Regions from separate parts of the Homo sapiens genome. Here region 1 is linked to region 2. The links come from fine-mapping of genetic effects on gene expression. Tissue or cell type: putamen. Region 2 holds a variant in brackets; the other region holds the start of a gene. All regions are shown on one strand. Distances are from middle to middle.

What was found. PIP is the estimated chance that this variant, and not a neighbour inherited with it, causes the effect.
Region 1: it holds the start of POLR2M, and the variant in region 2 is fine-mapped to the expression of POLR2M in putamen (GTEx, PIP 0.99).

What each region holds. Positions count from the first base shown.
Region 1 is chr15:57,704,882-57,709,279 of GRCh38, forward strand. It overlaps POLR2M (RNA polymerase II subunit M), which reads left to right and starts at 1,833. Exons shown (of 4, transcript NM_015532.5): 1 at 1,833-2,074; 2 at 3,833-4,398. The coding sequence starts at 1,962. GCOM1 (GCOM1, MYZAP-POLR2M combined locus) reads left to right here. Exons shown (of 17, transcript NR_104371.3): 14 at 1,053-1,491; 15 at 3,833-4,398. RefSeq lists an enhancer at 1,728-1,947 and a silencer at 2,268-2,317.
Region 2 is chr15:57,734,057-57,738,454 of GRCh38, forward strand. It overlaps LOC105370834 (a long non-coding RNA gene), which reads left to right. Exons shown (of 6, transcript XR_001751554.3): 2 at 1,411-1,598. Among named protein-coding and RNA genes, the nearest start is that of POLR2M, 30 kb to the left of the region's middle. The variant A/T (reference allele first, on the strand shown) is at 2,071.

The sequences.
Region 1 (4,398 bases), 29 kb before region 2:
TGCTAACTGGAGGCTTCATCTGCATGATAAAATTTCGGTCTCCACAAGTTCTTATGCTAACCTAGACATTCCTTTAAATCAATTACCAATCAGAAAAAAACTTAAATTTACCTATAACTTGGGAGCCCATCTTGCCCCACACCCGCTCTGCTTTGAGTTGTCCCACCTTTGTGGATTAAGCCAATGTTTATCTTAAATGTATTTGATTGATGTCTCATGTCTCCCTAAAATGTATAAAACCAAGCTGTGCACCAACCACCTTAGGCACGTGTTCTCAGGATCTCCTGAGGGCTGTGTCACGGGCCATGGTCACTCATATTTGGCACAGAATACATCTCTTCAACATTTTACGGAGTCTTTTTTTTTTTTTTTTGTCAGTACCACAGACAACCACCTGACTCGAGGACCTTACCTATTTCTCATTCAGCCAATGCTGCAGCACGTTATTAACGTCCTTGAAAGCAAGTCTTATACAGAGAAAACTTATTTTGATATATTAATGAATCTGATCAGAATGGACCAGATTGGGGGGATAGATAAATGGTTGCAATTGTGCTCCCTGGAATAGCTTTGGAGTTTACCTAGATCTTCTGTCTCTTTAGGACAGAGCTGCTTGTGTTTATATAGCATCTTACACAGGATTGAGACAACTTCAATTTCCTATATCAAAAAATCGGGGGAGGGCGGTGGGTTATGGGGGTGTTCAAACCTCCCAAGTGACATCTGCTGTGACTGCATGTCTTCCTACTCTTTCCACTGGGATGCACCTCTGGTAGCTGAACTATAACGAGAAGGTAAAAGCTGTGTCCAATACCTATTAAGCTGCCTTCTTCTCAACAGCTGGGGAGGTGGCGGGGGTGGGGGGGGGCGGAGGGAAGTCTTTTCAACAGTTTTACACATTTGGAAATAGGCCTAAAGTGAAGAAGGGGATTTTCAAATTGGTGTGTTGGAAAAGGGGCTGGGCTTTTGAGTTTGAAATCTGGTGCTGTCACTTACTGGTTTTGTGCCCTGGGAATATTTATTTCAGTTTTCATGCCTCTGTTTTTCTATAGGCAAAGTAGAAAATTCGAAAAGGTCCTCAACGAGTTTGTACAGCTGCTCCCACTCCCTCATCACCTCTTGTGGGCCTTTGGAAATGTATGTTGGAGGAGACATTTTGGATTGTTGCAATGACTTGGGAGTGCCATAGCACCTAGCAGGCAGAAGCCAGAAACACCAAATGTCTTAACAATGCTTGAGGCGGTGCTACAAATGAAGTCCTTCTCCAAATGCATTGAGCCCCAAGAAAAATCGCTGATTCTGAGGAACCTTCCAACTTTAACAATTTCAGGACGTCCCTAAGCTGAGCTAGGAGGCACCACGCACAGGCCGGAGGCACCACGCACAGGCCAGAGTCTCCCAAATCCTGTCCCGCACTCTCTCCCACCTTATTAATGGCCAGCTCATCTTTCAAGTTTCGACTTGAACCACTTCTCAGAGATATCTTCCCAGGTGCCCATCCCAACGTTACTATTATATCATAATTTGATTCTCCCTCCCCCCATCCCCCCGCCAACTCTGTAAACCCCAAGTATAACACAGGACGTTGCTATTTGTTGACTGACACATAGTGCTTGGTGAGGTCACGCTGGCGCTGAATACTTTTTGTATAAACCGACGAACAGCTGATGACCGCATGAATGCTCACACAAGGGGAAAGGGCGCCAAGCCAAGGAGCCGGCGTCATCCGACGTAACTTCCGCCCTTTAACGCTCCTGCGGACGCCCCCTTCTCCCAGTCCGTGTTTGTTTCCGGAATTTCAATAAAGCTCGATTCGGCTCGAAGAAGACCCCGTTCTTCCGGGAAAATGGCGACTCCCGCTCGTGCCCCGGAGTCACCGCCGTCCGCGGATCCGGCGCTAGTAGCGGGGCCTGCCGAGGAAGCCGAGTGCCCGCCGCCGCGCCAGCCTCAGCCCGCGCAGAATGTGCTCGCTGCCCCGCGGCTTCGAGCCCCAAGCTCCCGAGGACTTGGCGCAGCGGAGTTTGGTGGAGCTGCGGGAAATGTTGAAGCGCCAGGAGAGACTTTTGCGCAACGAGTAAGCTGGGGTCCCGCGGAGTCTCCGCCAGGCTCCTTCAGCTCGAGCTCCCTGGGCGCTCCCCTCCCCTCCCGCACTCTGTTCCCTTCCCTGGAAGGTGACTTTGACTCAGTCACATTCGCTTCAGTCCTACGGGCGAGTGGACGGAGGGCTTGCTGCGGCAGAGCCGTGCCTCTTCCTGGCCAGGCACGTATGCCTGCGAGGATAGCTCGGATTGAACGGCTACCTGGCGTTGCAGGGAGTTAGTAGCCCCTGGTCGGTTTTATTTACCCGGGGACTGTGGTGGTTCCATGAGTCTGCTTTCTAAACCCTTTTGTCGCCCGCACCCCTAACCCATAACAGATTGTCAGCTTCATCTCTGGATTCTAAGCTTACAGGAACCGTAGGAAATGGGAAGAGTGGGATATGAAGAGGGGTTTATTAGGCCGGGAAAGTTCGACCCTCATTCAGCTGGCTGGTTGAACGGATTTTAGCAAGGGAGCCACGTAATAAAAGTGATTTTGTTTTTTAGGCAGCTTTGTTCAGCAGCTTGTTGCAAAAGATGGTTTGAAGGAATAAAAAGCAGAAGACAGTAGAAGGATATTTTCAGAGAGACTTCCCACGAGACACTTGTAAGAAAGTGAGCTAGGAAGGGATTGGGAGAACTTTTAAGCATGGACTAATTTAAATGCAGTTGACAGAGATGGCTGAAGTTTCCAATCTATATGGAAGACCACTAGCAAAAATAGGAAAATTCAGGGAGAGGAATAGATCCAAGGTTGATTTTACTTAGGGTGTGCAGAGTTGAGAGGAGAGCAGGACAGACATTTGGTTAATCGAAAACCAAACACTTAAAAGCTGGAGAAGTAGTCATGAGGCTCAAGAAAGAGAGAACCCTGGAAAAATACAGAAAACAGGAATTTCAGCTGTAGAGTGTTGTTAATAGTTGAAATTGTGGGGATGAATGTAGTGTCAAAAAGAACAGAGGACTTAAGGTGTAATTTTTTCTTTCCATTTATTGTATAGTTAAAGAAAAGGGAATCAGAAAAGGAACTCTGTCATCCAGCAAAAGGGACAAATAAATAATTGGTTGGGATCAAGACATGTGTTTTGACCTTGTGAGAATAGGTTTTGAATGTATAGCAGTGAATTAACTTTTTGGTCTCAGGACTCCGTTATACTTTAAGAATTATTGACATCCCAAAGAGCTATTTTATGTGTTGTATCTAGCGAAATGTATTTACTTATCAGAAATACGTCTGAAGTCTTTAAAACATAAGCATACACAAGCACACATTCTATTCTAGAACAATGATGTCATCACATGCCATGTAGCCTCTGGAAAACTCCACTGTACCCATGCGAGAAAATGAGAGGGAAATAATATCTTAGTATTATTATGAAAGTAGTTTTGACCTAATAGGCCCATCCCCACACTCCACCCCATCCCCAAATTTTGGAGATTGCACTTTAATGACTGCTGGTTCTTGGAATGTCTTATGTGATTATTATATGCTTAAAATACTTTTGCTGAAATTCTAATTTGCTGAGACAAATGAGGCATATATTCCCTATTCTTCCTGCATTCCCTTGTTTTTTGGGCTATTTGGATAATGACCATTTTAATTGTTTTATTCTTGTTTTGGGGCAGTTAGAAATCAGATATTTGACTTAAAAATCAGCTTTTCTTTCTTTGAAGATAATGCCTTGCCTTTTTAATGTTATATCTCAAGTTAAAAAAATGGCTGTAATGTAATAGTATTCTTTTCCATTTGACAGAAAATTCATTTGCAAATTGCCCGACAAAGGTAAAAAGATCTTTGACTCTTTTGCCAAACTGAAAGCTGCCATTGCAGAATGTGAAGAAGTTAGAAGAAAAAGTGAACTGTTTAACCCTGTTAGTTTAGACTGTAAGCTAAGGCAAAAAGCAATTGCAGAAGTTGATGTGGGTACAGATAAGGCCCAGAATTCTGACCCGATACTTGATACTTCATCACTAGTTCCTGGATGTTCCTCTGTAGATAACATCAAGTCATCTCAAACCTCACAAAACCAGGGACTTGGACGTCCTACTCTTGAAGGTGATGAAGAGACTTCAGAGGTTGAGTACACAGTGAATAAGGGCCCAGCTTCCAGCAATAGAGACAGGGTACCACCTTCATCTGAAGCTAGTGAGCATCACCCGCGGCATCGTGTTTCAAGTCAAGCGGAAGATACTTCCAGCAGCTTTGACAACCTGTTTATTGACAGGTTACAGAGGATCACCATTGCGGACCAAGGTGAACAACAGTCAGAAGAAAACGCAAGTACTAAGAACTTGACAGGCCTTTCCAGTGGGACTGAGA
Region 2 (4,398 bases):
ACATGAGTCTGTGAATTTTATGATTTAATCAAGTAAACAGGAGATTTTCCTGTAGGTTACATCTTCTAATTAATCTGTTCACAGTTTCCAGAAGATACTGTGTTGTATCATTAGTGGTTTTTCACATTTGTAGCAAACTTTTTCTTCACTTTATATTGGAGTTCAAAACAGATTTAATTCTTTTTAATTAACATGGTGAACAGCAGAGGATAAATAGTGTTGACCCCTTGCTGGTCTTAACTCCCCATCTGATCGTAGCTTGGACCAACCTTCAGATGCACTGGGCTCTTTTGAATGTTTATGCAAATTTCATTTATTCATGTCCCCCCTTTTTTTGGGTTCTAGGTACTTTAACAATTTGGATAAAATTCATTTGGTTTTGGAAAGGAGAAACTTTTAGTACATGCTTTCTTTTGTGCAGCTGATGAAAAAAATCCCCATCTGGTTCGCTAAAAAATACAATCGTGTTGTCTTTTGCCACTTTCACACGAAGGAAAAGGACATCATATAATCTATCTTTAGAATGTTCTCCCAGGTGTCTTACTCTGCAGAAACTTTAGGAAGTGAGTTTTGACAGAGGGCCTGGTTTCCTTTACTTTAAAGTCATTTTACTTTAGGTTTGCAAAAGAAGACAGGGTACATGACAGAGAGGGAGGGGAGAGAATGCACATGGGCCATGGTGAAAAATCCCATTGCTGATTCTAACTTTGCCTTACATAACATTAGGAGAAAAGAATAGGCAGGAAGTTGGAATCTGCAAGTAAGACACTCTAAAATCTGGATTCTGTATTCTTTTTTATTCTCTTAAATTGACTCAATGCTGCTGGTTGTAATGTCTAAGTGATAGCTGCTGATAAATATTATCTTTGTGAACACACAGGGCATCATCAAATGTCAAGTCTGCAGACTCATTTTTTATGCAAGCCTAGCAGATTTTTGTGGATATGGGCCAGGAATTTTAATGAAAGAAAACATCAAAGATGCAAAAGAAATGAGAATATTAGTCAAGGAAGATACACAGCGATGCTCTCTGATAACCCCTAGTATTGACATTAGAACTCTGTGGGAGCAACTTAAATAAACATCTGGACACTGAGTTTAGACATTTTCAGTGACAAATCCCAGACAGATCTTTTCGACTTGCAATAATAAATATTTCAGAGGCTATATGAATCAACTGAAAATCCTGTTTTCAATTATTCTAGTTTTATAAATAGAGCATAATTATTCAAGTATAGAATTTCTTTTGAAGATTAGGCGAATTTTATATTTCCTTTGTCCATATTATACTTCAGTTTTATTATTCATATCAAATTTATGTCTGTGTGTTCAAAAATAATATAGTTAGCTTGCCAGATACTATTAAATCAGAATCCAGCTGAGCTTGATTTTTTGTTACTTTATTTTCAGGAAAGACCGTTTTACAGCCCTCAGTACCGCAGTTCCATGAACTTGCTCAGCTTGGCAGCCGCAGCTAAGGACACCCGTGGTAGTAAAAGCGGGAAGATGGGCTCCCTGGCTCTTCTTACCAAACTCTGATTGTTTGGAGCAGTTTGACCATCATTTAGCCAGGAAGACACCAGAAGGATGGCGTGCTGGTAATGCTTCAAGACAGCCAAACTTTATAAAAAACCTGGTGGAAGTAAATATAGCTAGGCAGTCAGTGACCAAAGCTACTCGGATGGGCCTGTTGATTGCTATTGTAAATTTTCTAATATGAATACAGGCTTTTCTCTAGAGATTGAAAATAAGAAAGGAAAGTGAACCGTGATGAATTGCGTATATTACCTCCCGAGAGCCTAAACGCTCACATGTTAAAAGTTAGCATCTGCGGCAGGTAGTCCTTAATATTTATGATCCGCTCTGGCATTGAGAATGGGACATGAGAGGGACATAATGGTTAGAGACTGGCTAGATAACTCTCGTTACTTGGTGCTTGCCAGGGTATCCTTTGTGAAATAGTTATGTACACTCGTGCTTTTCCTCCCAGTCCCTGAATAGAATGACACTTATGGACCGGGACTGCCTCATGCTTGGGTCTGACAAAGATGCCCTTTTAAAATGCTTTGA[A/T]TAAAGAAGCCCTAGTTCTGCTTCTGACAGTTTCAGGGGAAGGAAGCTTTAGGCAAGCCACAATGTTTCTATTCATCCACTATCAAATCTATAATTTGATAATAGTAGCTAGTGTTCACTGAGCCCCTACTAAATGCAAAACACTTATTAGGACCTACATTAAGGAAATACATGTATATAATATAAAAAGTCACATAGAACTAGAAGTCTTATGAGGAAAAACAGAAATCCTCTTCTCAGTCTCATTCCATCCCTAAAGCAACTACTTTAGTTATTTCTCAGTGATTTATCTCCAGATTTATAAATAATGTGCTTATAGTACTATTGTTTCATTTCTAAGATAGACATTATCTACTGGATGAAGAGTGTGGTTTAGGTCTTATACTTCATCCATTCCCATTCTCTTACACTTCCACTCCCTTCATCCTTTCTATTTTAAATTAAATATTCAGTGTTTATATTATAATGACTATAAATAATATTTTTATTAATATTTTCAAAGTGTAGTGAGTTTCCTTCTTTACATGACTTGAGTTTGCTTTGGAATCTATAATCACTTTGTTTGTTTAATTTTCTATGTGTCTAAAAATGAAGTCTCAAATTTTCCAACAGAAGCATAGAGCTCCTTTCTGTATTGTCAAATGAGTCAAACAAACTATTATTCCATTCTCTTTGACTTGGAGGCTTCCCTGCTGGAGTTCTCCGTCCTTCTGCATTCTGGCCCGATGGGTCTAGTGATCTACCACACTCTGTCATTCTGAGATTTCCCTTCACTCTGACCCAAGGAATTCTCTTTACCACACTCCTGTATATGATCTGCTTTCTGGATCTCATGTCTTCATCTTTCTCATTTTTCTCTCCAATGTTGAGAAAACACATTTTTCAGCAAATATGAAAGTTGCAAAAAGGCAGCATGGGAGACGAATTTTTCCATACCTTGTATGTTTGATGATTTGATTTGTAGTTTGGCTGGGTATAGAATTCTAAGTAGGAAATCATCCCCCACTTAGGATCTGGAATGCATTAATGACTCTACTGTCTTTTAGCTTCGAGTTATGGAGGAATTCAATGGCATTCTGATTCCATATCCTTTACATGTGACTCCCCGCACCCCTTTCTCACTCTTCCTCTCTCTTCTGCACTCAACATTTAGGTCTTTTTTCTTTTTAATCTCTAGGATATTAAAATTCCATGAAGAACTCACTCAATCACTTTGGTGTGAGCACCCTCCACCCCTTCTTTTTTGTGGAGATGTGGGGAGAGCTGGTGATTGTTGGGCTCCTTTAATCTAGGAAAGTCTGTCTTAATTTCTGAAAAATTTTTCTTATATTAGTTAGTTGATAATTTACTCCTTGCCAGTTTCTGTCTTCTCATGTTGGAACTTCTGTTAGTCAGGTATTGGATCTCCTGGATAATTACTGTAATATTTTAATTCATTATAGTTTTCAAAAATTCTCTCTTTGAATTATCTGTTTCTTTCAAGTGCTTCCTTCCTGCCCCGCCCCCTGCACCCCATTTGCTTTTGGTCTCTATCATGTTAGAGGCTCTCTTCTAATCTCTTCTATCCTTGCTGTCAGGTGAATTACTAAAAGGTTGCGGGGAGGTTCTGTGGGTGGGCCTGGAGTGAGGGGGCACCCAGCCTTTATTTAGGAGATCCTCAGGTGTCAGCATCTGTCCCTCTATCAGGTTCTTTGGAAAGTCCCCTGCCTTTAGGGTGTGTCCCTGGCTGCCAGCATTTGGGGGATGGTGCTAGGACTCTCCCATTCAGCTTGCAGTCATTCATTCTATCCCCCTATTTCTGATAAATTGCCCCACCCTTCCTTCAGCATGCACCCTTGTGTATGCTTGAGTGTCTACTGAGTGTCCTCGAGTTCACCCCTCTCTGGTCTCTCTCACCAGCTGCAGGGGTTGGACAAACGGGTGTGGGGGTCTCTCCACACTTCATGCACATCATGAGCAAGTCCTATGGATTTTTGGCCCGCCTCTCAGTCTGACTTACAGAGGATCTCACTGCCTCCCTCTCTGAACCTTTCTAGGATTCAGTGGTGTAAATTGGCTTGCTTTGTATTGGTTTCTCCCCTCTGCAGACAGTTTCATGTTAGCTTTCTTTACACTAATGAAGGGGTAGATGAGTTGGTATTTTTTTATTTTTATTTTATTATTATTATTATTATTATTATTATTATTTTGAGATGGAATCTTGCTCTGTTGCCCAGGCTGGAGTGCAGTGGCGAGATCTCGGCTCACTGCATGCTCCGCTTCCTGGGTTCGCACCGTTCTCCTGCCTCAGCCTCCTGAGTAGCTGGGACTACAGGTGCCCGCCACCAC